Linked DNA regions of Homo sapiens. The protein of the gene in region 7 purifies or fractionates together with the protein of the main gene of each other region. This does not show direct contact. Each region holds a gene or a part of one and is shown on either strand. Other genes may lie near its edges. The genes, in order: CS, ACO2, RNPEP, PSAT1, CIRSR, BRI3BP and OCA2.

What was found.
Region 1: the proteins of OCA2 (region 7) and CS purify together in Homo sapiens (affinity purification with mass spectrometry; one large-scale study listed by BioGRID and IntAct). This does not show direct contact.
Region 2: the proteins of OCA2 (region 7) and ACO2 purify together in Homo sapiens (affinity purification with mass spectrometry; one large-scale study listed by BioGRID and IntAct). This does not show direct contact.
Region 3: the proteins of OCA2 (region 7) and RNPEP purify together in Homo sapiens (affinity purification with mass spectrometry; one large-scale study listed by BioGRID and IntAct). This does not show direct contact.
Region 4: the proteins of OCA2 (region 7) and PSAT1 purify together in Homo sapiens (affinity purification with mass spectrometry; one large-scale study listed by BioGRID and IntAct). This does not show direct contact.
Region 5: the proteins of OCA2 (region 7) and CIRSR purify together in Homo sapiens (affinity purification with mass spectrometry; one large-scale study listed by BioGRID and IntAct). This does not show direct contact.
Region 6: the proteins of OCA2 (region 7) and BRI3BP purify together in Homo sapiens (affinity purification with mass spectrometry; one large-scale study listed by BioGRID and IntAct). This does not show direct contact.

Annotation. Positions count from the first base shown.
Region 1 is NC_000012.12:56,279,831-56,283,330, forward strand, and holds part of CS (citrate synthase, mitochondrial precursor), read right to left. Parts: intron 3,162-3,500; coding exon 3,030-3,161; intron 2,779-3,029; coding exon 2,590-2,778; intron 1-2,589. UniProt on the Homo sapiens protein: Key enzyme of the Krebs tricarboxylic acid cycle which catalyzes the synthesis of citrate from acetyl coenzyme A and oxaloacetate.
Region 2 is NC_000022.11:41,521,117-41,524,616, forward strand, and holds part of ACO2 (aconitate hydratase, mitochondrial precursor), read left to right. Parts: intron 1-1,713; coding exon 1,714-1,871; intron 1,872-2,088; coding exon 2,089-2,162; intron 2,163-2,713; coding exon 2,714-2,825; intron 2,826-3,500. UniProt on the Homo sapiens protein: Catalyzes the isomerization of citrate to isocitrate via cis-aconitate.
Region 3 is NC_000001.11:201,981,160-201,985,447, reverse strand, and holds the start of RNPEP (aminopeptidase B), read right to left. Parts: upstream 2,801-4,288; 5' UTR 2,782-2,800; coding exon 2,335-2,781; intron 2,088-2,334; exon of another isoform or gene 1,986-2,087; coding exon of another isoform or gene 1,932-1,985; intron 1-1,931. UniProt on the Homo sapiens protein: Exopeptidase which selectively removes arginine and/or lysine residues from the N-terminus of several peptide substrates including Arg(0)-Leu-enkephalin, Arg(0)-Met-enkephalin and Arg(-1)-Lys(0)-somatostatin-14.
Region 4 is NC_000009.12:78,295,708-78,299,924, reverse strand, and holds the start of PSAT1 (phosphoserine aminotransferase), read right to left. Parts: upstream 2,801-4,217; 5' UTR 2,715-2,800; coding exon 2,655-2,714; intron 1-2,654. UniProt on the Homo sapiens protein: Involved in L-serine biosynthesis via the phosphorylated pathway, a three-step pathway converting the glycolytic intermediate 3-phospho-D-glycerate into L-serine.
Region 5 is NC_000002.12:174,354,213-174,357,712, reverse strand, and holds part of CIRSR (corepressor interacting with RBPJ 1), read left to right. Parts: intron 1-3,500. UniProt on the Homo sapiens protein: May modulate splice site selection during alternative splicing of pre-mRNAs. Regulates transcription and acts as corepressor for RBPJ. Recruits RBPJ to the Sin3-histone deacetylase complex (HDAC). Required for RBPJ-mediated repression of transcription.
Region 6 is NC_000012.12:125,010,645-125,014,144, reverse strand, and holds part of BRI3BP (BRI3-binding protein precursor), read right to left. Parts: intron 1,612-3,500; coding exon 1,509-1,611; intron 1-1,508. UniProt on the Homo sapiens protein: Involved in tumorigenesis and may function by stabilizing p53/TP53.
Region 7 is NC_000015.10:27,754,375-27,757,345, forward strand, and holds the end of OCA2 (P protein), read right to left. Parts: intron 1,099-2,971; coding exon 1,014-1,098; coding exon of another isoform or gene 985-1,013; 3' UTR 501-984; downstream 1-500. UniProt on the Homo sapiens protein: Contributes to a melanosome-specific anion (chloride) current that modulates melanosomal pH for optimal tyrosinase activity required for melanogenesis and the melanosome maturation. One of the components of the mammalian pigmentary system.

The DNA.
Region 1 (3,500 bases), on a different chromosome or scaffold from region 7:
GGTGGTGCGCACCTGTAGTCCCAGCTACCGGGGAGGCTGAGGCAGGAGAATCGCTTGAACCCAGGAGGCAGAGGTTGTGGTGAGCTGAGATTGTGTCACTGCACTCCAGCCTGGGCAACAGAGCGAGACTCCATCTCAAAAAACAAAACAAAACAAACAAACAAAAAGGCCCAGGGTGGTGGCTCACGCCTATAATCCCAGCACTTTGGGGAAGAGGTGGGCGAATCACCTGAGGTCAGGAGTTCTGGACCAGCCGTTCTAGACCAGCCTAGCCAACATGGTGAAACTCTATTAAAAAGACAAGGCCAGGCGTGGTGGCTTAAGCCTGTAATCCCAGCACTTTGGGAGGCCGAGGTGGGCAGATCACGAGGTCAGAGGTTCGAGACCAGCCTGGCCAACATAGTGAAACCCTGTCTCTACTAAAAATACAAAAAGTTAGCTGGGTGTGGTGGTGTGCGCCTGTAATCCTAACTACTCGGGAGGCTGAGGCAGGAGAATTGTGTGAACCCAGGAGGTGGAGGTTGCAGTGAGCTGAGATCGTGCCATTGCACTCCAACCTGGGTGACAGTGCAAGACACCGTCTCCCAAAAAAAACAAAAAAAAAAAACAAAAAAATTAGCCAGGAGTGGTGGTGTGCGCCTGTAATGCCAGCTAGACATGGTGGCATGTGCCTGTAGTCCTTGTTACTTGGGAGGCTGAGGCAGGAGGATCACTTGAGTCCAGGAGTTCAAGGTTACAGTGAGCTATGATCATGCCACTGCATCCTGGCCTGGGTGATTAGAGAGAGACCTATTTCTAAAAAAATAAAAATAAAAATGGCTGGGCACGGTGGTTCACATGCCATTTCACTCCAGCCTGGGTGACACAGCGAGACTCCATCTCAAAAAAATAAATAAATAAATAAAATGAAAAACAAAATATTAAGATTATATGACCTTTTGTACCTGCTAATGTGTGCAGGTACAAATATACACATTCATACCACCTAAAGTGTTTATAAATAAGCCTTTATAAATAAATGCTTTATGTGGTGTGAATGTGTATATTTTGCATCATTCTGATACCAACTCCCCAATGCCAACCAAGTTAATATCAATTTTAAATGCTCTCTGTCTTCCTCAACTGCAAACACAATTCTCTACACACAGTTGGTGCCAAATTAATATTGACCAACTAAATCAATCTAGATTTGCCAAGGACCCAAGGTGGTTGCATCAGAGCAGTGGGTCATGCTCTTCTGTGTCTTGCACCACAGTGAACTCTTTAGGGCCTTCCTGGTGGCTGGCACCTCCTGGCCAAAAATCATTTAATGTACCTGCTTTGTAAAAAGAAAATTTTCTGTTCCTATACTACCTATCTCCAAATAAGGAACAAAAGAAAATGGTACATTCTCCTGTAAACCTAGCCAGATCATTTGTACTTTTACCCAGTGTTTCTGAGTTTGTGGGGTACTAGAAGAGGATGGAAGGAATTATGTACTATGCATTGGGATAAGAAACAATCTTTCCATACCCCAACCAGCGTTGTAAACTATTAAGGACACTTTTCATTTTCAGAGAATAAAGCTCATTTGTTTCTGGATCTGGAGCCTACTCCAAGGATACTAACCACTCTCCCACTCCTGATGGGTATCTTAGGTTGGCTAGCCGAGAACATGACTGACTGGCATTAGTCCTCCTAGACTCCAGAGTTGCAATTGCTGTTCTCCCAACTTGTAAGATTTCTCAAAGTTTTCTGTATTTGAAGAAGATAGTGAGGGAAAGTGACCCTCTGGTGCTAGCATGAGACTGCTCTGTGAAACCTTCCTCAGGGACCCTGCAGTTAAGTCACATCCTTTTCTTTTCTTGTTTTCTCCTTTTTTATGTACAGATAGGATCTCACTATGTTGCCCAGGCTGATCTCAAACTCCTGGCCTTAAGCAATCCTCCCACCTCAGCATCATGACTCACTGGGATTATAGGTGTGAGCCACCTACCTAGGTCTCTTTTCCGTTTCAACAGCCATGTGTACATACCTCTGTTACAGCAAGACTATGGAATTTTTTTTTAGATGGAGTCTCACTCTGTTGCCCAGGCTGGAGTGCAGTGGTGCGATCTCGGCTCACTGAAACCTCCACCTCCCAGGTTCAAGTGATTCTTCTGCCTCAGCCTCCTGAGTAGGTGGGATTACAGGCGCCCGGCATCACGCCTGGCTAATTTTTGTATTTTTAGTAGAGATGGGGTTTCACCATATTGGCCAGACTAGTCTTGAACTCCTGACCTCGTGATCTGCCCGCCTTGGCCTCCCCAAGTGCTGGGATTATAGGCATGAGCCACTGTGCCCGGCCGACTATGGAATTTTAATAATTTCTTTTTTCTGCACGTGTGTCAGCCTAACCAAACAAACAGTCCTGGTGATAGAAACCATGCTCTACTTAGCTTTGTAATTCCAACAACTGACAAAAAACAAGCCTCCAATGAAAATCTGTTAAGTTAGTTTCTGATTAACTCAGAGGTAATTTTTCTAAAGATTCTGTATTTTTTCCCTCCCTTCACACTCAAGTCCTTTGAATCCCCATCACACACCGATCACCCCACCCAAATTTCCTACCTCCCAGTACTTGGTTCGGCTGATACCCTGTGCATATGCTCGGGCAAAGTTACTTTCACTGTTGAGGGCTGTAACAGCTGCACTGAGCTGAGACATGGGGTGTAGATTGGTGGGAAAGTTGTCCAGCATGGTGACCACATGGGAAGGCAGAGCTGCCCTCTTTGCCCACTCTTTTGAGAGCCAAGATACCTGTGGAAAAAGAGACAGTGCTCAGAACACCAGCAAGGACAAGGAAGGAGAAAAATAAAAAAGGACAGCAACATCTGAGTAAAGAAAACCCAAGAGAGGTCAACCCAATCCATTTATACAGCAGAACTCTGCTGATTCCTTCCCTTCACTACGCATCTCTATAAATGCCGGATCAGCATTAAGTGTCTGAGATTAGAGAAAGGCAATGAAGAAGGGGAATGAGAAGAGCTAATAATATCCTTCTGCTTTACCTGTTCCTCTGTTGGGATATGTCCAGTTACCAGCAGCCAAAATAAGCCCTCAGGCAGGGGTTCTTCCCCACCCTTAGCCTTGGGTAGCAGTTTCTGGCATTCAGGGATACTAAAGCCTCGGAAACGGATGCCCTTGAGAGAGGAGAGAGAGAATTACAACTCAAGTTTATAGCCTAGAAGTCACACGACTGGTCTTACTCATCAGACCTTACAACAAGTTAGAGTAGAACTTTTTATGTTAATTATTATTTCTGTAGAGGTGGGGTCTTGCTATGTTGCTCAGACTGGTCCCGATCTTCTGGCCTCACGCAATGCTCCACCTTGGCCTCCAAAAGTGCTAGGATTACAGGGGCAAGCCATCATGCCTAGCCCAGAATACAATTTTTAATTTTCTTTTTTTTTGAGACGGAGTCTCACACTGTCGCCCAGGCTGGAGTGCAGTGGTGCGATCTCGGCTCACTGCAAACTCCG
Region 2 (3,500 bases), on a different chromosome or scaffold from region 7:
GAATATTCACAATCAAGAAGAATTTTTAAAACTCCTAATCTCAACCCCCAGCCAGGAGCAAGCTCTTAGAGCTCTTGGAGAGGTGTGCTGTGTTTCTGTGTATTGTGTGCATAGATTTTCCCGTTTTACATTTTATATCACCCATGCTGCTTTATGTGACTTTTCATGCTTTACACATGCAGACGCCCTGGCATGCCAGTCACTGGCATCTGCTGCTGCTGGGTACAGTGTGGCTGTGAAGAGCATGGAGCCTGGAGCCAGATGGCCTGGGCTTGAATCCTGGCTCTGCCACCTAACAGCCACTAACAGCTGAGTGACCCTGAGCAAACTACTTCACTGTCTATGTGTGGGTTCCCCATCTGTAAAACAGGAGTCATGATCGTACTGACACCTTTGAAGGTGGTGTTGGGCCTACTGCTGCTATCACCAATGAGAAAAATAAATAAAAAATAAAGTTGTCTGGAGAAGTGACAATATGTGAAAAGAGATTTCTATACCGTCTGGCCGAAAATAAGGGCAATATAATGTGTTCGCCCTTATTCATTGAAGTAATTTTAAGAAAAAAAATATTTGGTGGTTTAATAATTAGAAAGTAAATTACTAAATTAATAAAAGAAACTATCTTGGCTGGTTATATGGGCTTTTGCCAGTAATCCCAACCCTTTTTTTTTTTTTTGAGACAGAGTCTTGCTCTGTCACCCAGGCTGGAGTGCAGTGGCACAATCTCGGCTCACTGCAGCCTCCGCCTCCCAGGTTCAAGCAGTTCTGCCTCAGCCTCCCGAGTAGCTGGGACTACAGGCGCCCGCCACCATGCCTGGCTAATTTTTGTATTTTTAGTAGAGATGGGGGTTTCACTGTGTTAGCCAGGCTAGTCTGGAACTCCTGACCTCAAGTGATCTGCCTGCCTCGGCCTCTCAAAGTTGTGGGATTACAGGTGTGAGCCACCGCGCCTGGCCAGTCCCAACACTTTGAGAGGCTGAGGCAGGAGGATCATTTGATCCCAGGAGTTCAAGAGCAGCCTGGGCAACATGGTGAGACTTTGTCTCTACAAAAACAATTTATTGAATTAGCCAGGTGTGGTGGTACTCACCTGTGGGTCCCAGCTACTCAGGAAGTTGAGGCAGGAGGAGTTGCTTGAGCCCCAGGAGTTAGAGACTGCAGTGAGCAAGCCTCGACTGTGCCCTTGCACTCCAGCCTGGGCGACAGAGCAAGACCCCATCTCAACAACAACAAAAAGAGACTGTCTAGACAGAAAGTGCGATGTTATTCAGGTTTTATAGACTTTTTAAAAAGAACTCTTATTGCCCTGATTATAAAACAATCTTTAAAACCCAGAAAATACTAGAAAGTATAAAAGAAGAAAATTAGCATCTCCTGTCAGCCCCAGCCCATCAAGGATGGCTGTTCGTATGAGCCCTCTGACGTGCCTACACGTGTACATGATATTGCTGTAAAAGGGGTCATAGTCCTAATGTGTTCAGCATCATGGCCAATGGCTACAGCATCTTTCTTCAAATGACGCCACGTCATGAGTTAGCCTGTCCTTTATTGTTGGATATTTCGGTTGCTTGCAACTGGTCTCTGTTAAAAAAGTCTCTGGCCCAGCCCAGATGGTGAACTCTTTTGGCCAAGTCTGGATAATTTGAAGTCAGGTGGAGACCTCTGCTCACTGTCTCCTCCTGACCCTTAACCCCACCACCCACAATGCACCAGGTCTAATTGGTAGCTGCACCAATTCAAGCTATGAAGATATGGGGCGCTCAGCAGCTGTGGCCAAGCAGGCACTGGCCCATGGCCTCAAGTGCAAGTCCCAGTTCACCATCACTCCAGGTTCCGAGCAGATCCGCGCCACCATTGAGCGGGACGGCTATGTGAGTGCCCATATCCCCCTGCCCATCTCCCCCACCCCATGCTGAGTAATGCCTCCAGGCGGCACAAGCCCAGAGGCCTGTTGGGCCGGGGCTGGGGCAGGTCCCAGTGGCTGCCCTGGGGTTCCAGTACAGCACTTCGTCCTGCAGCCACCACATCACCCCTTCCCATCAGACTCTCACCCACCCTTGACATTCTGTCTTCCTCTCTCCCTGGCAGGCACAGATCTTGAGGGATCTGGGTGGCATTGTCCTGGCCAATGCTTGTGGCCCCTGCATTGGCCAGTGGGACAGGTAAGAGGCGTATCTTTTGACAAGACAGCCCCTTGTGCACAGGGTACAGAGCCCCAGAAGTTGGAGGGGGAATTATTGGGGTGGAGAGAAGAGACTCCAGCCAAGGTCTCTAGCTCCAGGGACTCTTGCCCATTAGAAGCCTCTGGCAGACATGCCTGGGAAGAGGGGCTGGGTGAGGAAGGGCCCTGCAGAGGCACTGGGGGGCAACTTGGCTGAAGCCTGGGCTGGCAGGAGGAAGCCAGCGCGGCCTCACCCTGACGGACACAGCAGGAGCCGTTTGGGAGGAGGCAGTGCCCCAGGTCAGGAAACTCAGGCCTTGACCAAGGCCTTGCCTCTGGCTTACGTGTGGTTGCAGGCTGGGCCCAGTGATCCTGAGGTTCCCTTCTGCTCTGCGCGTGGCCCCAGGAGGAGGCAACCCTGGCAGGGCCTCTTCATTTTCCCTCGGTAGGAGCTAGGCTGGGCTGCGCCACAGGAACCCAGCTTATCTGTCCTCGGGACAGGCCAGGTGACAAGGCCAGATATCCCTAACCCTGATCCCTCTGACCTGGCAGGAAGGACATCAAGAAGGGGGAGAAGAACACAATCGTCACCTCCTACAACAGGAACTTCACGGGCCGCAACGACGCAAACCCCGAGACCCATGCCTTTGTCACGTCCCCAGAGGTGAGACTGCCCAGCTGCGCACAAGCCTGGGATGGCCTCTGGGGGTCCCTGGCGGGTCAGAGGAGGAGGCAGAAGGAGATGGGGACTGGGGTCATCCAAGTGGTAGCCAGGAGCTACAGGCCTTCCCAGCCTCAGGCGCATGCTTGGTGCTTCCTGCCTGGGGCTCCCTGGGTCATGGGATTATGAGATATTTATACAGTGGTTTGTGCTTATGAGCATGGAATTTGGAATCTCACTCACTGCCTAGGACACATCCCAGCCCTGCCTCTAACTCGCTGTATGAGTGTGGCCAAGTCACTTACCTTCTCTGTGTCCCCGTAATCCTCGGGATTACCTGGGAAAGTGCGTGGGACACATGCAGTTTCCAACCCCAGGTAGGAGTTCCACAAAAGCGAGGCCTTTGCCATTGTTCCCGTGGCCAGAGTGAGCCTTGCCCTTGGCGGTATTCAGCCCTGGCCGTGACTGGCACATGGCCAGGCTCTCTTGACTTGGTTGTTTATCTGCGTGTTCTACAAATATGTCTTGCTAAATGGGTGAAGGAATGGCTCCTTCCATGTTTTTAGTGTCCTGCGCACTGAGCAGGTTTGCATCATACCAGCATTTCTGCGCCAGGGCCCCCACTCCCTCCAGGATAGCTGTGAGGAGAGAGAACAGCACTGCCGGCCCGGCCCTGCA
Region 3 (4,288 bases), on a different chromosome or scaffold from region 7:
CCATCTCTACAAAAAATAACAAAAATTAGCCAAGTGTGGAGGTGGCAGGTCTGTGGTTGGTCCCAGCTACCCCAGCTACTCAGGAGGCTAAGGTGGGAGGATCACTTGAGCCAGGGAGGTCAAGGCTGCAGTGAGCTGAGATGGTGCCACTATACCAGTCAATAAGAATTGATCAATTGACTGATCATTGAATGCCATCAGTCAGTGATGTTTTTACTGATCAGCTAGGAAATGAGTATTTTTTTTTTTTTTTTTTAGATGGAGCCTCGCTGTGTCACCCAGGCTGGAATGCAATGGCATGATCTCAGCTCACTGCAACCTCTGTGTCCCAGATTCAAGCGATCCTCCTGCCTCAGGCTCCCAGGTAGCTGGGTTTACAGGTGTGAGCCACCACAACCAGCTAATTTTTGTATTTTTAGTGGAGGTAGGGTTTCACCATGTTGGCCAGGCTGGTCTCAAACTCCTGACCTCAGGTGATCTGCCAGCCCTGGCCTCCCAAAGTGCTGGGATTACAGATGTGAGCCACCACACCCAGCCTGGAAACGAGATTTTTAAAAAGAACAATGTAGGGAGCTTTTTGATCCCTTCTCAAAAAAAAAAAAAAAAAAAAAAAAAAAAAAAAAAAAGAAAGAAATACAAAAGTTAGCAGTAAGAGCTAACACAGCTTACTTACCATGTACCACGCACCATATTAACCACTTATGGAAAGACAACTCATTTAACCTATGTCAAGCACTTAGACTAGTGCCTGGCTCATCTTATTAAATATTAGCCATCATCCCCCCTCCACCAAAATTGCTTACTCATCATCTTTGCTTTTTTGTTGTTGTTGTTAAAACAGGGTCGCACTCTGTTGCTCAGGCTGGAGTGCAGTGGTGTTATCAGGCTGTGAAAGGAAAATCTCTTGGGCCCCCAAAATCACTAAAGAAAACTCAACCTGGGAACCGCTTAGGGCACACCTGCCTCCCATTCTATTCAAAGCCACTACTCTGCTCACTGAGATGGATGCATATCTGATTTGCTTCCTTTGGAAAGGCTCATCAGAAACTCAAAAGAATGTAACCATTTGTGTATCACCTATCTGTGATCCGGAAGCCGCTTCAAGTCTTCCTGCCTTTGCTGCAAGTTGTCCCACCTTTTCAGACCCAACCAATGTACTTCTTACATATACTGACTGATGTATCATGTCTCCCTAATGTATAAAACCAAGCTGTGGGCCGGGCGCAGTGGCTCACGCCTGTAATCCCAGCACTTTGGGAGGCCGCCGAGGCAGGCGGATCACGAGGTCAGGAGTTCGAGACCAGCCTGACCAAAATGGTGAAATTTTGTCTCTACTAAACAATACAAAAATTAGCCGGGTGTGGTGGCGCACGCCTGTAGTCCCAGCTACTAGGGAGGGTGAGGTACGAGAATCGCTCGAACCCACGACGCAGAGGTTGCAGTGAGCCGAGATCTTGCCACTGCACTCCAGCCTGGACGAGAGTGAGACTCTGCCTCAAATAAATAAATAAAAGATTAAACTGTAAGCAAGCAGTTTACTATGAAACTTGCAACCAACTCTACCTGAGAGATAACTGGCAGCCACAGCCTAAGGACTCTCCAGGAAGGATTTTCTGACTCTTACAGACATAAGCCACATAACTCCATCCTCTTATTTCCAATATTTGCCCCGTCCCGAAAAAAAATTAAAGAGTTAACCAACAGTGAGAAGGCCAAATTATTATAATGCTTATAGCACCCTAATTCCAGTTCTCACTTTTACTCAAATTCTTTCGTTAATCAAATCCAGGACTTCACAGGAGGAAACAAAAACAAAGATAAGAGCTTTAACCGTGGAACTAGAAGGCAACACAGAACAAAGAGCTAGATCAACATCTGGCTAATTCTAGAGCCACCATAAAGCAGAGATAAGGTGGCTGATAATCAGGTACCTCGGCCCAAAAGTCCAAGAGGGCACTAAGTGAAGTGCATGAACAACAGGTCATCTAGAAAGCCACGGAAAATGTTAGAAACGGCAGTGTGCGATGAGCGGGAATGCGGCGCAATCTGGACAAGCCTCCAGGGCCAGGGAGGAGACGCGGAAGGACGGAAAGGGTGAAGGATGCACCGCCCAGTGGCTGGAGGAAGTCCAGAAGGAAACCAGGCAGCCCGGGAGGAAAAGAGGAAGCAAGGGGAGGAGGCCTAGAGGCGGCGCGCGGGGAGTAGGCCCCTCTAGGGACGCTCTGGAAGGGTCCTCCCTGTCCCTCCTCCCGGGTGGGGTAGGTGAGGGTGCAGGGCGGCTGGGGGCCGGAAGGGCAGGCAGGCAGCGGCGGGCGCAGTCTGGGGCGCACTCACCCCGGGTCCCTCCCCGACGCGGTAGGTGAGCAGCACCTGGAGGCGCTCGGCGGCGCGGCAGGGCTGCGGGAAGGACACGCACAGGGCCTGGCCATAGTGCGAGAAGGGCTGCGTGTAGAAGCTCACGGGCTCCGCAGGCGGCTCCTCCGAGCCGGGCCGCTCCCGCCGCAGCGCCGCCGCCGTCACCTCCAGGCACGGGTGCGAGTCCAGCCGCAGCTCGGCGGCGCCCTCGGGCTCCAGGCAGCGCAGGTCCAGGACCGCGGTGCCGCTCAGCCCCCGGCTCCCTGCGCCGGGCCCTGGAGGCCCGAACTCAGCCCGCAGGTCCAGGTGCAAGTGCAGCAGCTCAAAGGCCCGGAAGTTGGAGGCCGAGGCCACGTCCACAGCCTGCGCGGAGTGCAGCGGCCGCCGGGCCGCGCCGCTGCCGGGGGAATGCTCGCCGCTCGCCATGGCCGCAGAGCCGTTGCTCACCGGCCGGGCCGCGAACCCGAGGGGAGCCCCGCCCCGAGCGCCGCGGGCCCGCCCCCGCCGCGCGGGCCCCGCCCCCGAAATCTGCTCCCGACCGCATCCCCTCCCTGCGCTTTACCGCCCACTCTTCTAGCTGCACCCGTGCCTCGGGACTTAGGACAAAAGAGGCCGGTGGGATCGTGTGGCCCACGTTTGCCCACCCATATCCTACTGAGGTGTTCCAGTCGTCCCGGTGGGGCACCCTTCTCTGCTGACCCTTCCTGCTGCCTCATCTAGGCAGTGGCGTGGACTGAGCCCTGGCTGGGAAGGTCTGAGTTCCAGATCTCACACCCTGCGATAGGCCAGTTGTTAGAACTGTGTGTCACCTTGGGCAAGTCGCACAAGAAACATGAATCTTCCCGAGCCTTTTTCTGCACCAGTATAATAGAGTCATAATATCTGTGTATCTCACGAAGTAATGTGAGAACTCTACCAGGTAACCTGTCTAACACACTCAGCAAACAGTGAAACCCTGCACAACTTCACGGAATTCACACTGGATCGAGCCTCGTCCCCCAGCAACTCCAGGCACGCCTATCTTTCTATTGTTGGGTTAAGGGACAGGAATCAGCACCGCGCAATTTAAGGCCTGGCTGTCCATCGCATGTCACTTCTATTTCCCTTACTGTATTGTACCGCTTATTGAGCTAGGGTATTCTCCGCTGAATACTTTGTTTCTCTTCTGTACCAGTGGGTTGCAATGGGCCTTCTATGAATAGGAGCTAATCAATGATGATGTTTTTACCGTTCAGCTAGGAAATGAGATTTTTAAAAAGAACAATGTAGGGAGTTTTTCATTAAGGGAAATAGTATTCCGTTCTGTGCTTCCTAGTTTTGTAGAGTTGAAATTATTTTATTTCATGAAATAATGCTTATGGTAGATAATGACTTTAATATTCCATGTAAGTTCAATGTCAGGGTTTTTTGTTTAACTCCAGAAACCTTAGAAACCTGCTTTTCTGTAGCATTGAGAACAGCGCTTGGTACATATTAGACGTTGAATACTCCTATCTTGAAATTATTCAGTCTTCGATGCAATGCACTTTTGCTGAGTATCTGCTAGACACCAGTTGTTAAGCTAAGTGCCTGGGGTACAGTTTGAATAAGTCCGGCACAATTCCTCTTCCTATGGTGTTCATAGCCTAACTCACATTTTAGCAGACGCACAAGAAAACAGGTCACGACACTTCCACGTGCTGCGCTTGATACGGGAAGAAAAGGATGCTGGGGAGCACAACGAAGAGATGCCTAGCCTGATCCTTCTAGTTAAATATTGACAGAGGAAGAGGATGTCATCCTTAGCTAAAGGGTAAAAGATTTTAGGCTGGGTGTGGTGGCTCACGCCTGTAATCCCAACACTTTGGGAAGCTGAGGCAGGAGGATCGCTTGAGCCCAGGAGTTCAAGATGAGGCTACGCAACAGAGGGAGACCCCCTCTCTACAAAAACATT
Region 4 (4,217 bases), on a different chromosome or scaffold from region 7:
ACCTTTTTTTTTAAGATGCTTGCTAAGGAGGGCATCATTAAAACACAGCTATAACCTAAACTGGATTGCAACTTGTCTCAAAAAACAGTATTTTAACAATAAAGAATTAGACAAGGCCGGGCGTGGTGGCTCACGCCTGTAATCCCAGCACTTTGGGAGGCCAAGGCGGGCAGATCATGAGGTCAAGAGATTGAGACCATCTTGGCCAACATGGTGAAACCCCGTCTCTACTAAAAATACAAAAATTAGCTGGGCTTGGTGGTGGGTGCCTGTAATCCCAGTTACTCAGGAGGCGGAGGCAGAAGAATCGCTGGAACCCGGGAGGCGGAGGTTTCAGTGAGCCGAGACCAAGCGACTGCACTCCAGCCTCGTGACAGAGCTTGACTTCTCTCAAAAAAAAAAAAAAAAAAGAATTAGATTAAAAAAAAGACTGCCTTGACGACTGGGTCTAAGAATGTGTTATTGTTTTCTGAAATGTTGGATGCTTGTTAGCACCAGCTGATCAAATAAAATAGAGTGAATCTTTTCTTTTAGTAAAGAGAAACATTCATCTGTGAATAATCTTTGAACTTGCTCCTGAGACTGTATCTTTCTTATAGACAGCATTCATTGAAAATAGTTCTATAAAAGTTTATAACCAAAATAATTACAAACAGTTTTAAAGACTCCTACTGAAAAATCACACCTCCCTAATCCAGTAGGTTTTTTTTTTTCCAGTTGAAGAATGCATTGCTTTTGTGGATCATAACCAATTTTTTTTTTTTTTTTTTTTTTTTTTTTGTTAAGAGACAGGGTCTTGCTCTATCACCCAGCCTGGAATGCAGTGGGACAATCACAGTTCACTACAGCCTCAAACTCCTGGGCTCAAGAGATCCTCCCACCTTAGCCTCCTGAGTTGCTTGGATTACAGGCGTGCGCCACCACACCCAGCTCACGACTAATTTTTTTAATGAAACAGAACAGACTAGAGCAGGATAGAATACAAAATAGTGTATGTCACAGGTAATTAGGCTACACATCATTTCATAAGGCATTTATTTTTGTTACAATTGAATGTGTATACTTTGTCATTTTGTAAACATGTTTTTCACTGTAGGTTACAGTCAAAAGAAGTTTGAAAGCTTCTCTAATATTTACAATTCAACTAAATCAAGGAAATACATAAAAAGCAACATCTGCCTGCCCCCTCACCCTCCTGCCCCCCAGGTTACATGCAGTCCAAGGGCAAAAATCCTCCCAGAAAAATTAATAACAAATAATTGTATTACTGATGACAATTGCCATTACAATTATAGTAATAAATTAATAACGAAATACATAGGGAACAAACGTTGGGAACACTCCAAAACATGGGGGGTGCAGGAGGAGGCTACAGGAAACATCTCCACAGCTGGAGCAGGGAATCTCGCCTAAAATGAACTGTAACCACTGAGAAAAAATAAGCCCTGTCCTCTCAGCTACTGTGAGCGCTGCCCCTAGAAAAGTAAGAAGTCCTTTCCCCTTTAAAATTGGATTCTCTGTTCTTACCACAACACAGAGGAGGCTCTGTCCCAGGGAGATTTCTACTCTGCTCAACAATTGATAATTGTAAAATACTTGGCTATGCCTCATGCTGCTCCAACATATTATCAGCTCTATCCTGGTTAGAAAAATAAAAATCTAACGGCGGCGGCAGCCGCCTGACAATGGGCTCAAGGCACATCGGAGACTTTGCCTTCTTCACTGCGGGTGGGGCTGGGGACGGTGGGTTTGGCGGGGGAGGGGAGGAGCCGGGCTGGGGCCTGGGAAGGCAGAGAGTGAGTTCCACCAGCAAGATCTGATTGTGGCCCGGGAGAGAATTCAATCACTCGGTTTACTCCAGAACGAAATGAACAGGGAATTGGGTTAAGCAGCCCAAAGTCTACCAGAGTTAGAATACTCGAACGCCTTTAGGGGACAAGCAGGTTAAAAAAAGGAGGGGGGTGGGGAGAAAGGCTTTAGGAAAGGGTAGGTTCTATGGGGGACAAGGAGGGGAAAGCTGGACTGAAGGTTTTCAAATTTACATTTCTGAAAAGCAGTGTTCCTAAGTGCTGGCTAAAGCAAACACTGGTGTAAGGCGTAGGGGGGCACGCACACGCGGACCTTTAAGTTTGCAATCCCTTTCAGCTAACGTGATCCACTGCATATGCAAAACCTGTCATCGGTTCATTCCCGTTCATCACTCATTCACACTATGTCCATTCATGCATCCGCTCCACACTGCCCGGGCTCGCCGCACAGCTGCGCGAGGCGAAGGCAGAGATCAGAGCTTTTTCTTTTTCGCCCCGCCCCAGCCCCCGGACCGGCCCAGGAGATGGCACAGCCCGGGCGTCTGCAGGTGCGTGGCACCGGCGGGACAGCAGGCCCCGGCCAGCTGAGTCGTGCACTGCCTCGCACCAGCAGTCAGGGCCAGGGGCAGCTGCACGGGCACGCCTCGCCGAGCTTCCTCACCAACTGCATTCTTCCCGAAGCCCGCTTGCCGGAGCTGCTGATCCCGCTGTGCACGCTGATGCAAAGCGCCTAGGGGACTCAAGGCAGGGAGCGGGAATCCGACTGCCACACGCAGGGATGCAAACCCACCCGCGTGCGTGCTCCCGCCTGAACCTCACTCCCGGCGCCCGCTCGCGGGGACTTACTGAGTGCGGCAGCTTGGCGGGACCAGGCCCAAAGTTGACCACCTGCCTGGGGGCGTCCATGGTGCGGCGGCCAGGGCGGTGAGTCAGCCAAGGAGGACCGAACGCGTGAACGGCTGGCGTTCCTGGCCGCTGCGGTGAGAGTCTGCAGCCGGCCCCGAACCCCCGCCTTGTTCCTGCGCCGAGTCGGCGCCCCATTGGCCCGTGCTGTCGCAGGCCCTGCGCTAATTGGTTCGCGCGAAGGAGCTCACATCCCCATTGGTCGCGCTTCTGAGCCGAGTCGAAGCAGTTGCTCCTCCTCGCGTTTACTGTTTCAACCCCCATTTTTGATCAATGCAAGGAGCGCGCGAGATTGCGCCAGCCAGCCGAGCCGGCTCGGCTGCGCGCCCGCCCGAGGATTGTGGGCGGCGGGAAGAGGCTGCCCCTGCCAACCTGCCTTCGCCCCTTGAGCCCGCAATCTGGCCGGTTCCAGTCCTCCAACCCCAGAGGACCTCAGCTCCTCTCTCTTGGCTGAAAGGGCAGTTGCCGAGCAGATTTGTAGCCCCCATCCACCCACCTCTCCACCACCAGCCCCCAGTTTGGGCTGTGATGTATTTGTTCCAGAACCACCAGTCACTAATCTACCAAACTTTTCTAAGCACCCCCCACGGGCGTCAGATACCCCAGTGGAGAGAGAGGACCCCCCCAAGGTTGGAAGCGCAGGATGAAGAAGGGCCGGGGGTGGGTGGATACGGTTCTTTGTATTTGCACGTGGGTCCTGAGTTCCTGCAGGATTAAAGAACGGAGGTGGCCAAGGACGCAGGGAGGAGCGATAGCCTGGGAAGCGTGGATGCCCGCCAGGCAAGTCCTTTAAAGTCGCTGATTCTCCATTTCCTCCTTTGGGAAACGAGTGAGCTGGAAACCTGCGACAGCTCTCAGGTTGCGCCCGCGCTGACAAGCTGTGAGTTTAGAAACGTGAGGAGATATTAACAAGAACGCGATACCCATAGGGCGCTGCAGCCCAAACCAGAAGAAGGTGGCCCCTAGCCAGGCCAGGCGCAGGGCCAGAGCTGCTCAAACTTTTCCACAGAAGTGTCCTTCTCAAAAGAACTCCAGTGGAGACCCGCATGGGGTTCTGAAACAGAATACCCTCCCCCTACCCTGCAAGAAAGAAGTTCCTTTGAAGTCTGGAATTTCATCATTTTTAAACTGTGAATTTTGCATTCTCTACCATAATTTAACCTAGTTTCTTTTAATGTAAAAATATTTTCCCTGTCTGAGTAAAATTGATGCGCCAGGAATATATACAGTCCAACTGCCCCGTTTAGAGAAGGCTTGTAACTGGACAGGACTTTGGCTTTTGTTTGCTTTTCCTAATGAGAATGTGGGCGGTATGGGGCTGAGAGCAGAGGCACTGCTCTGGATCTGGGAATTGGAGGACAAAGTTTCCAGAAAAAGGCAAAATGAACAAGGCCCCTGCGTTCCTCAGCAACTTCATTAAGAAAACCGCGACATTCAAGACAGAATAAATCTCAGCCCAGAAACTCAGGCATGCAAGAAGCATCACATATCCATTATTTTACGTAA
Region 5 (3,500 bases), on a different chromosome or scaffold from region 7:
AAGATAATTCTTGATAAGTCCCATTAGACACATATCTCCCTCCTGATCACATACTCTAACTAGTGTCTAACTGTCCTTTTTACATTTAGTGACAGGGACTGGCTTATTCGCTAGATATAGCCAATTTAACTTTAGGAAAGAAAAAGGGACAGAAGATTGTACTTTCTTTCATTTGTGATAATGTTGGGGTTTATTTTAAAACAACTTTTATGGTTATATTACTGTTAGTTTGACTGCAATAAATACATGGGAAAGTGATTACAAGAACATACAAGTAGTCTTGGCCTCCTTTTTCTTTAGCTAGAAACATGTTTTAATTAACCAGAAGTGTATTTTCAGGTGTCATTTTCCTAAATCCAAACTTTACAAAACTTGCCATATATTCCCCCAAAGTATGTGGTATAAAATATCAAAATAATTTAATAATAAGCCTCTAGACTTAACTACCAATTTATAGGAAATATAAGAGCTAGAGAAACATGTTAAATGGCATCACTGTCCAGAATGTGGGAAATCTACAGGACAAATTACCCAATTTCTTTAACAAATGAATAACAATAGGGAGGGGAAGATAGGTAAATGTTTTAGATTAAAAGAGATCTATAAATCAAATACAATATGTGGACCTTGTTTGTATCCTAATCTGAGCAAACCAACTGTAAAAAGATACTTTTGAGACAGTTTGAGAAATCTGAATGTTGACTATTCGATGACATTTTAAAATTATCAATGTTGAGAAGCATAATAAAGGTATTGAGGTTGAGATTTTATTTAAAATATTCTATGAAAAAAATAAATTTGGAAGTAATAGCTAAGACAAGAATGACAAAATATTGTTAATTGTTGAAGCTATGTGATGTAGGTTTGCAATTTTCCGTAGTATAAAGTTAAATTAAAACACACACACAATGAGAAGGGAAAAAAAATAGATCATCACTGTAATAGGAAGCAAAACTATATTCACTTTAGGGTAGCAATTTAGTTTCAGCCAACAGTGGCATCCTATAAATTAAGTACATAATATATTAAATTTGGGAGAAGGAGAGACAGGCCAGTCAGTCAGTCTGTCCTCTTTCCTTCCCCTTCCCCTTCTTCCTTCCTTCCTTCTTCCCTCCCTCCCTCTTTCTTTCTTTCCTTTCTTTCTCCTTTCTTTCTTCCTTTCCTTCCTTCCTTCCTTCCTTTCTTCTTTCTTTCTTTCTTCCTTCCCTTCTTCCTTCCCGTCTGTCTTTTTTTCTGTCTGTCTTTTGACAGGATCTCACTCTGTTGCTGAGGCCGGAGTGCAGTGGTGAGATCACAGGCTCACTGCACCCTCAACCTCCTGTGTTCAAGTGATCCTCCCACCTCACCCTCTCTAGTAGCTGGGAGTATAGGCATGTGCGCCACCACGGCCAGCTAATTTTTGTATTTTTTGTAGAGACAGGGTCTCACCATGTTGCCCAAGCTGGTCTTGAACTCCTGGACTCAGGCGATCCACCCGCCTCTGCCTCCCAAAGTGCCGGGACTACAGGCATGAGCCACTGCGCCTGGCCAGGAAAGGCATTTCTAATTCAGCCTTACCTAACCTACAACTCACTGCCCCCTTTTCTCCTACTTAATACCATAAAATTGTAGGTGATAATGCATTGTTTGAAAAGAATGATGGGCCAGGTGTGGTGGCTCACACCTGTAATCCCAGCACTTTGGGAGGCCGAGGTGGGTGGATCACGAGGTCAGGAGATCAAGACCATCCTGGCTAAAGAAAAGAATGATGAACTTCGAATGGAGCAGATGGACCTAGTGTTTGCAGTGAAACACAAGTGTCTTTGACTTCAGCTTTAGTCTCCCTCCTATGCCATTTGTGGCATTCCCCTGGGACTGCCATACTATAATTGTGGAGTCAGTTGTATGCCATTTCCTCATAGCCAGAACTTTTGAGTTTATATATTATTCTTTGATAAAATACCTATTTTACAACAGGACATTCTTTTTTTACCTTTCATTGTTTTTGTTCTGTAAAAATGAATACTCTTAGTGAGTAGATTAAGCGCTTTACACACATAATTTTGTATAGCATAATTTACCTTCTAGGAATTTTTTCTTTCCTGAGACTCGATTTCATGGTATTTTTCTAGTAGAGCCTGGGTCTAATCAGAACATGGAACTGTACACAATTGGTATTTTGATACTTATCCATATCACAGCAAAGAAAAGTTTGTAAAATAAATGAATGTTGAAAGCAGTTTCTTCAGTGGACCTGCTTTTCTAAGTGGGAACATTGGTTTTCAATGCTGTGAAGGCTTGGCTGAGATGATCTAGAAAGGAGCCCTCACAAATCTGCATTTTAGAACAAATGCCTTCTTTCTGAATTCTCTAGTATTATTCTACCATGACAAATTTAAGAATAAGCCAAACAATTTTTAAGATCCAACTCCAGCTATAATTGAAATTATTAAGGCACCATACATAAAAGTAGTTATTTTACATTTGAACATATTTGTGTAATCTATTTTATCAACGTATCTGTAATCATCTATTTTATCAACCAAATTTTGAGTTCTCAAAAGATCTGGAGTCATTTCTGTCAGTGTAACTCTACGTAGCCTCTGTCATAATAATGTGAAAGTAGAAAGATACTTGCTAAATATATCTTGATTAAACCTGACTTGTTTCATCTCCTAAACCTAGAACTTTAAACTCAGAACTTTGGTTGATAGGAGAAGGTTTAAGTATAAAAAAAATGTGAATAAGACTGCATTGTGAAAAGTATTACTACTAAGAGCATTTTTTTGTATTATGAAAAGTACCGTAAGATAGTCATGGAATTTGGATAGTGGCCGGGTGCAGTGGCTTACAACTGTAATCCCAGTACTTTGGGAGACCTAGGCAGGTGTATTATTTGAGCTGAGGCATTCAAGACCAGCCTGGGCAACATGGCAAAACCCTGTCTCTACCAAAAAAAAAAATATATATATATATAATATATATACATATGTAAAATATATATTATATAATATATATTATATTATATATAATATATGTATTATATAATATATAAAATATATAATATATATTATATAATATATAAAAATATATAATATATATTATATAATATATAAAATATATAATATAATATATATTATATGATATATATAATATATAATATAATATATAAAATATATATAATATAATATATATTATATAATATATAAAATATATTATATGATATATATAATATAATTTATATAATATAATATATATTATATATATTTTATATATTATATTATATAATATATTATATATATCATATAATATATATTATATATAATATATAAAATATATATGTACATATATAAGTAATATATGTACATATATAATATATCTTATAAAAAGACAATTTCTTATATAAGAAAGTTGAATAGGTACTGGTAAAAATAATAGTTGTTACTCTTTATTAAGTACTATTTGTCGAGCACTTCACTAAGCACTCTATTTACAGTCATACATTGTGAAAGTGTGCTAAA
Region 6 (3,500 bases), on a different chromosome or scaffold from region 7:
GTAGAGAAAACGGGAAGGTTACTTCATCCTGAGAGCATGGGATGCCTCTGAAGCTCTTAAGGCGGTAAGGGACAAGGTCTCCTCTGGGTATAAAAGCTGTACACCCTGGGCACTCTGCCCGGGTTAGCTCCTGTCACCCACCGATGGAATGCAGGTGGAGGTGGGGCAGAGCCACCTGGGAAGGGGAGTGTAAGGCTGGGGGTAGCACAGGCTGCAGGACTGGACTAGGAGTGCCCAGCTCAGTTACCATGACCGTTGCTGCCTTGCCATCCGCCAAGACCAGTATCAGTGCCCCCTCCCACATGTAGAAAGGGAGGGGCCGTGCCTCACCAATGTTCTCTTCCTGATTATAAACGTGTGACTAGCACTGCACTATCAAACTGGACTACCCTCCTCCCCTAGCCCACAAAACCAGGGGCCAGCTCCCCTGGCAATTCTTGCCCTGTGCGGTGGGTATGGTGGATGGGCTGGTGCAGCATCAGGTGACACCTGCTCCCAGGCTGCCTTCCTGGATGGCAGAAGCTGGAGAGCTAAGAACCGCATTAGCCTGCCTCCCTCGCAGCTAGGGACTGGACAGAAAGTAAGTTCCACCTGGCAGTTCCCCCATACACACACGACTTTGGAAATTAAGTGAAGTGTTGCAGCTGATATGCATGGTTCCAGAAATGGCAAGGGTCCCTGCACCCACATGCAAAGTCTAGTTGTTGTGGCGGCAGCAGTGGCCTCCTGGTCCTCAAATTATACTACAGTTGTGTGACTTCGAACTCAACGGTTTCAACAGCTGCAACCCTGGACAGCCAGTTCGGCAGTGTCTGAGGCCATGCATCTCTTCCTCAGCCTTTCTGATGGTTCTGTGAGTGTCTCTGTCTCATGAAATCCCCTTCTGCCTAAATAACTAGTCATTTCTTGCACGGATGCCAGTAAGCCAGAGCACTATACCTCTGGTCCATGTGTTTTGCACACAAATTGGCACTCCCACTACCCAGTCGCACCTTATCCTAAGTGGCATCTGGGAAATCTCAGCTTTGATGGGCCATTTGTTTTTTATTTTTATGATTATTTGAGAGGAGTCTTGCTCTGTCGTCCAGTCTGGAGTACAGTGGCATGATCATAGCTCACTGCAGCCTCGAATTCCTCATCTCAGGCAATCCTCCTGCCTCAGCCTCCCAAGTGGATGGGGACTACAGGTGCACATCACTGCACCCAGCAATTTTTTTGTACTTTTTTTTTATAGAGATGGGATCTCACCATGTTGCCCAGGCTGGTCTTGAATTCTTGGGTTCAAGCAACCCTCCCACCTTGGTCTCCCAAAGTGCTGGGATTACAGGCATGAGCCACCATGCCTGGCCTATATATGAGACTATTAAAATAAAAAATGTTCACTCATATCCTCACTGACCAGCCCTCCGCAACCTTCTCATGTATTACTCACTGTGAGTACCAGTTCCACACTATGAGAACCACCAAAATAGAATGACACCTTACGTGAATGCCACCCCTACACCTACCGTCAAGTCCAAGAACATCCAAGAGCTCGGTCCAGACTTTCCACAGTGTCTCCACGAACATATCCACTCCCAGCACAAATCTCTCAGTCAGCCTGGCCAAGAACTGCAGAAACAAGAAAACGGTCATCACCCAATCACTGTTTTCCTCCATCAGTCAAGCAGTGAACTGGGGAGCTTGGGAGTTTATACCTGGGAAGGGAAAAATAGTGAGCCCATGATGAATACCACACATGTGGACTACTGGCCCAGGGGATTGACTTGAACTGGGTACTGATCACAGCCTAACTGAGAAAAACTGGTGAAAACGACCCCTTCCTTGCAAGGGCTGAACAAGGCACCTATGGAGGCTGGGACTCTCTGCAGGGCCGCGTTACGCCGCTTGCCATTGCTCCTGCTGTCTTTCATGCTTCCTCTTGGGTCAGGATCTCTGCCTTCCTCTGCCTGATTTCTCTAAAGAGACAGGGTCTCACTGTTGACCAGGCTGGAGTGCAGTGGTGCAATGATAGCTCACTGCACCCTCAAACTCCCGGGCTCAAGCAATCCTGCCTTAGCTTCCCAAGTAGCTAGGGCTACAGGTGCAGCCACCACACCAGGCTTTATTATTATTTTGTAGAGATGGGCTCTTGCTATGTTGTCCAGGCTGGTCTCAAACTCTAAGCCTCAAGCAGTCCTCCTGCCTGGCCCTCCCAAAGTCCTGGGATTATAGGCGTGAAACACTGCACCGCACCCTGCGGGTTTCTCATTTTTAAAGAGTGGAAGTTTCTGCTCCAAGGAAGCTGGTAATGATACAGCCCCATGCTCTATCCAACTCTAAGGACCCTGAGCCTCTGAGGTCTTTATTTGCCCTCCAGGTGACACAGGGCTAAAGAAACATGAATACAAGGTACAGCCTCATTTTAACTTTTTTTTTTAAAAAATTAGTGATATTGTATACATGTAGCATAAAACTCAAGCCTACCAACAGGTATTCAGTGGAGACTAAGCCTTCCCTCTCATTTCCTGGCAACTGGAATCCCCCTCCGGAGGAACCCTTCCTTAGACGTGCCAGGTGAATAATGGCACAGACATATTCTTTCTGCAATGGCAGCACAGGTGTACAGCTGAGCTGCTTTGCTCATGCAACACTCTGTCTTGGAGATACTCACACTCAGACCACACAGAGCTGCCTCATCCTTTTTAAACATGGTACACCTGGAGCCAGGCCCATACTCATGGATACCTACATGGTTTCCAGCCTTGGCTATTACAGGGGAAAAAACAGCGAGCCCATGATGAATGCCACCAAGTGGTCTACTGGCCCAGGGGATTAACTTGAACTTGATACTAATTGATGACAGCCCAACAACTGAGCAAAACTGAGTAAAACACGCCCCTTCCCTTGTAAGGGCTGACCAAGGTATCTATGGGGGCTGGGACTCTGCAGGGCTGCATCACGCAGAGTGCTGCCATAATAGAACCCACCTACATGGGCCACTCGGCTCACGTGTGAAGGGTAAATGCCTCCGTGAATTGGCTACAGCTTTTTTTTTTTTTTTTTTTTTTTAAGACAGGGTCTCGCTCTGTCACTCCGGCTGGAGTGCAGTGGTATGATCTCGGCTCACTGCAGCCTCCACCTCCCAAGTTCAAGCAATCCTCCCACCTCAGCCTCCCGAGTAGCTGGTACTACAGGCACGCACCATCACACTCAGGTAATTTTCATATTTTTAGTAGAGACGGGGTTTCACCATGTTGGCCAGGCTGGTCTTGAACTCCTGACCTCAGGTGATCTGCCCACCCCGGCCTCCCAAAGTGCTGGGATTATAGGCGTGAGCCACCACACCCGGGCAGCTACAGTATTTTATGTTTTAATTTAATTTTATTTTATTTGGAGTCTCGCTTTGTCGCCAGGCTGGAGTGCAAGTGGCACGATCTCGGCTCACTGCAACCTCCTCCTCCCAGGTTCAAGTGATTCTCCTGCCTCAGCCTCTCGAGTAGCTGCGACTACAGGCATGC
Region 7 (2,971 bases):
AGTCAGACGCTTGACACACAATCACTTCGGAGCAGTGTCCCCATTTTCATTCCAAGGTGTCATGCACAGAAGATCAGAAACTGAAGAAGGGCTTCTTCCTCTGGGGCATAGCCATGATACTGATGAGGCAGAGCAGAGGAGACCTCGCAGGAAGCACAGGGCTCCCCCTTGGTCTTTGTTCTCATTACCCTTACCTCACAAGGAATGCTTCACAAAAGAACTGCATTTAATAAACACCGACTGAGCCACAGCGTCCTGCAGGGAGAGCAGGACTGAGGGTATCGAGTGTACGTCTGTGTAATTGATGGAAATAGCATGCACCACTTGCAAAATGGAAAAATCATTACTCTAAGCTGTTAAATATGTAAGATATCCTTAAAAGATACCTATGATCTTCTGCAAGTCAAATTTCTGGACTTTTAATTAATAACTTTAAAACTGCAGAGAAAAATATAAATGGATAAAATGCAATTTTACATAATGTAAACTACTCCAAAGCCTTTTATCAAGGAACAGTTTATTTTAATACATAAAATGTTTCCTTACGAGCAGTAAACCTTTTCCCAGAAAGTCTATATTCAGAAAGCATACAATTTGAATGCTGATTATTTTAACATGAAAAGTGATTACAAGAAAAACAAACTGTGTTTAGCCTCAGGAGAATTGACAGTTAAACAGTACAGTCAATTTTAGGTGGATGTGTGTCTTTTCCTATGTATAGCAGGAAGGGTTTTTAAACATACGTATTTTTCTGGAGGGGAATCTTGAGTAAGTTATCTCACATCTTTCTACATTTTGTCCTTGGGGAGAAAGGACACACAGAGGAGGTCATGGTGTTCCAACATTCGCTTGAATTAGAGTGTTAGTGTCAAGGTCTATTCCACTGTGTCTCTGTAGCATCTCCAGGGTAAGCACCTTTTCTTCTTCAAACAGTGGGGTCAGGGTAGTTTTATGACTAATGGGTTGTGATGGATGAAGTTTCCTTTAGTCTTCGAGCAATAGATGGATGTCTATTAATTCCATCCCACCACCACATGAGCCACAAGGAGATAACACATCCCAACAGTGCAGGACACAACCATCATTGGGAAGCCCAGCCTGAAATACAAAGAGAAATGAGTTATGGCATCTGAAATCTGGATAATCTCATGAGATACGGACTCATAGCTCATGAGAACATGGCCTTAGCACCTTTGCATTTTCACAATGGCCACTACCTTTTATTTCCATAAATCAGGAAGTTAGTTTTAGACTAAATTATGTGAATGCATGCTTCTATTAGACATCCTCCATTGTGTGCAATTTTATTTGAGAACTGCTTAAGGTTTTCTCAAATTTTTAATGGCTATATGGAGCCTCTGTTTGTTCATCTATATTAGACTGTTGGTCTTTCAATGCCATGTGCTGGGCCACCATTTAAATCTCTGGATGTTTCCTCTACTTGTGTCATCTTCCAACTTTTCTTCTCTGGAGATTTCCCAGAGATCCCAGCTTCCAGCAGGCTCCTGAAGTCCCTCACACTTAAGGCCAAGGAGAGCTTGATAAGTAGTGTTGGAAACTAAGGCCAACTGTTGTCTAAGGAAAGGCAAAGGGAAGAAGAAGTTTTTCTTCTGTAGCCGGTGAGGTGTGAGACGTGTGGACAAGGAGGGTATGCACAGATACAAAAGCAGTCATGAGAAGAGAGAAGCATCCCTCATTGTGTGCCTCCTCCAATGTACACACATCTCCACAAATTCCTACCCCAGCTTCCAGGCACTGACAGATGCCACTTGGCATGGGTAATGCACGCTCTGTAGCCATTGCTCAGTGCTGCCTGGTCACTAAGGGAAGCCCCTGCAAATGTTACAATTTTGGTTTCAAAAGGCTTAAGTTTTAGCAGTAAGAGCCTAGCATGTGGCAATTATAAAGACATTCTCTCTTCCCTGGCCATAAGTGTAGGAAGAGGCTACTCAGAAAGAGCCACAGCAAGGGTTCCTCAACAGAGCTACAATTAAACACAAAAACTGATTCCATGAGCGAGACAGCTCCCGAAATTATAGAGTAGACTTGGGCATTTCAAGAAAGTGGTAGGATTCTCTTGGCTTCTCTTCTGAACACATTTTATTTTACAAAACAAACAAAAAGAAACACAGAACATATTTTGGGAAAACTACTTAAATTTCTTGAACTTTATCAACTTTGTTTTTGAAAATAGCTGAACATGTTTGCAAAATGTCAGCCCTGATCATTGAGTTCTGGAAAAACACAACCCACGACAGTGTCTGGTCAACTCCAGGCATCACAGACATCACTGCAAGCCTTCATGGAAGCACAAAGCCTTCGTTCCTCTGTGACAGATTGTGTAGAGTGAGTCAGTGTCAGGTAAGATGCCGAGAATCTCAATCCGGGTGCTGAGACACCTGGCCATGTTTTAGAAGCAAATTTGCCTGCCAAGGGGTGAATTCCACAAAAAGCAGACCTTGCTTGAGAAGCCCAAGACTGGAGAAAGTTCCTGGTGGGTGGTTTTGCCGTGCTCCCAAGTGAGAGCCACTGATGTCTTGAGGATGGCACCAACGCAGAGAAGGAGCATCACCTAGCATCACCAAACATTTTCATTTCACCCAGAACTGATGCAATCACTCAGACCCATCAGAAACCCTACTCTCCCTCACAACACCTAGTCACTGTGACACTCTCCATGCACAGGACCCTCTCAACTGCCCACAGTGCCTTCTGGAATTGGCATCATCACACCTACTGCAGAGGTGGGATGTTGAGAGGTAAGCAGGCTTGCCTGGGTCTCTCAGCTAGTTTGCTCTGGTGTGACAATCCAAATGCATCAGTCTAACTCTAGTTAGATTGTGTGATTAAGAGTGATTAAGAGTGTGTACTCCTAATCACTACATATGCTGCCTCCCTGTGGACATGGATAAATCATAACAATGGCAACCTGCCATTAGTAGGTAAATGACTTACTGAATATCTGCTGTAT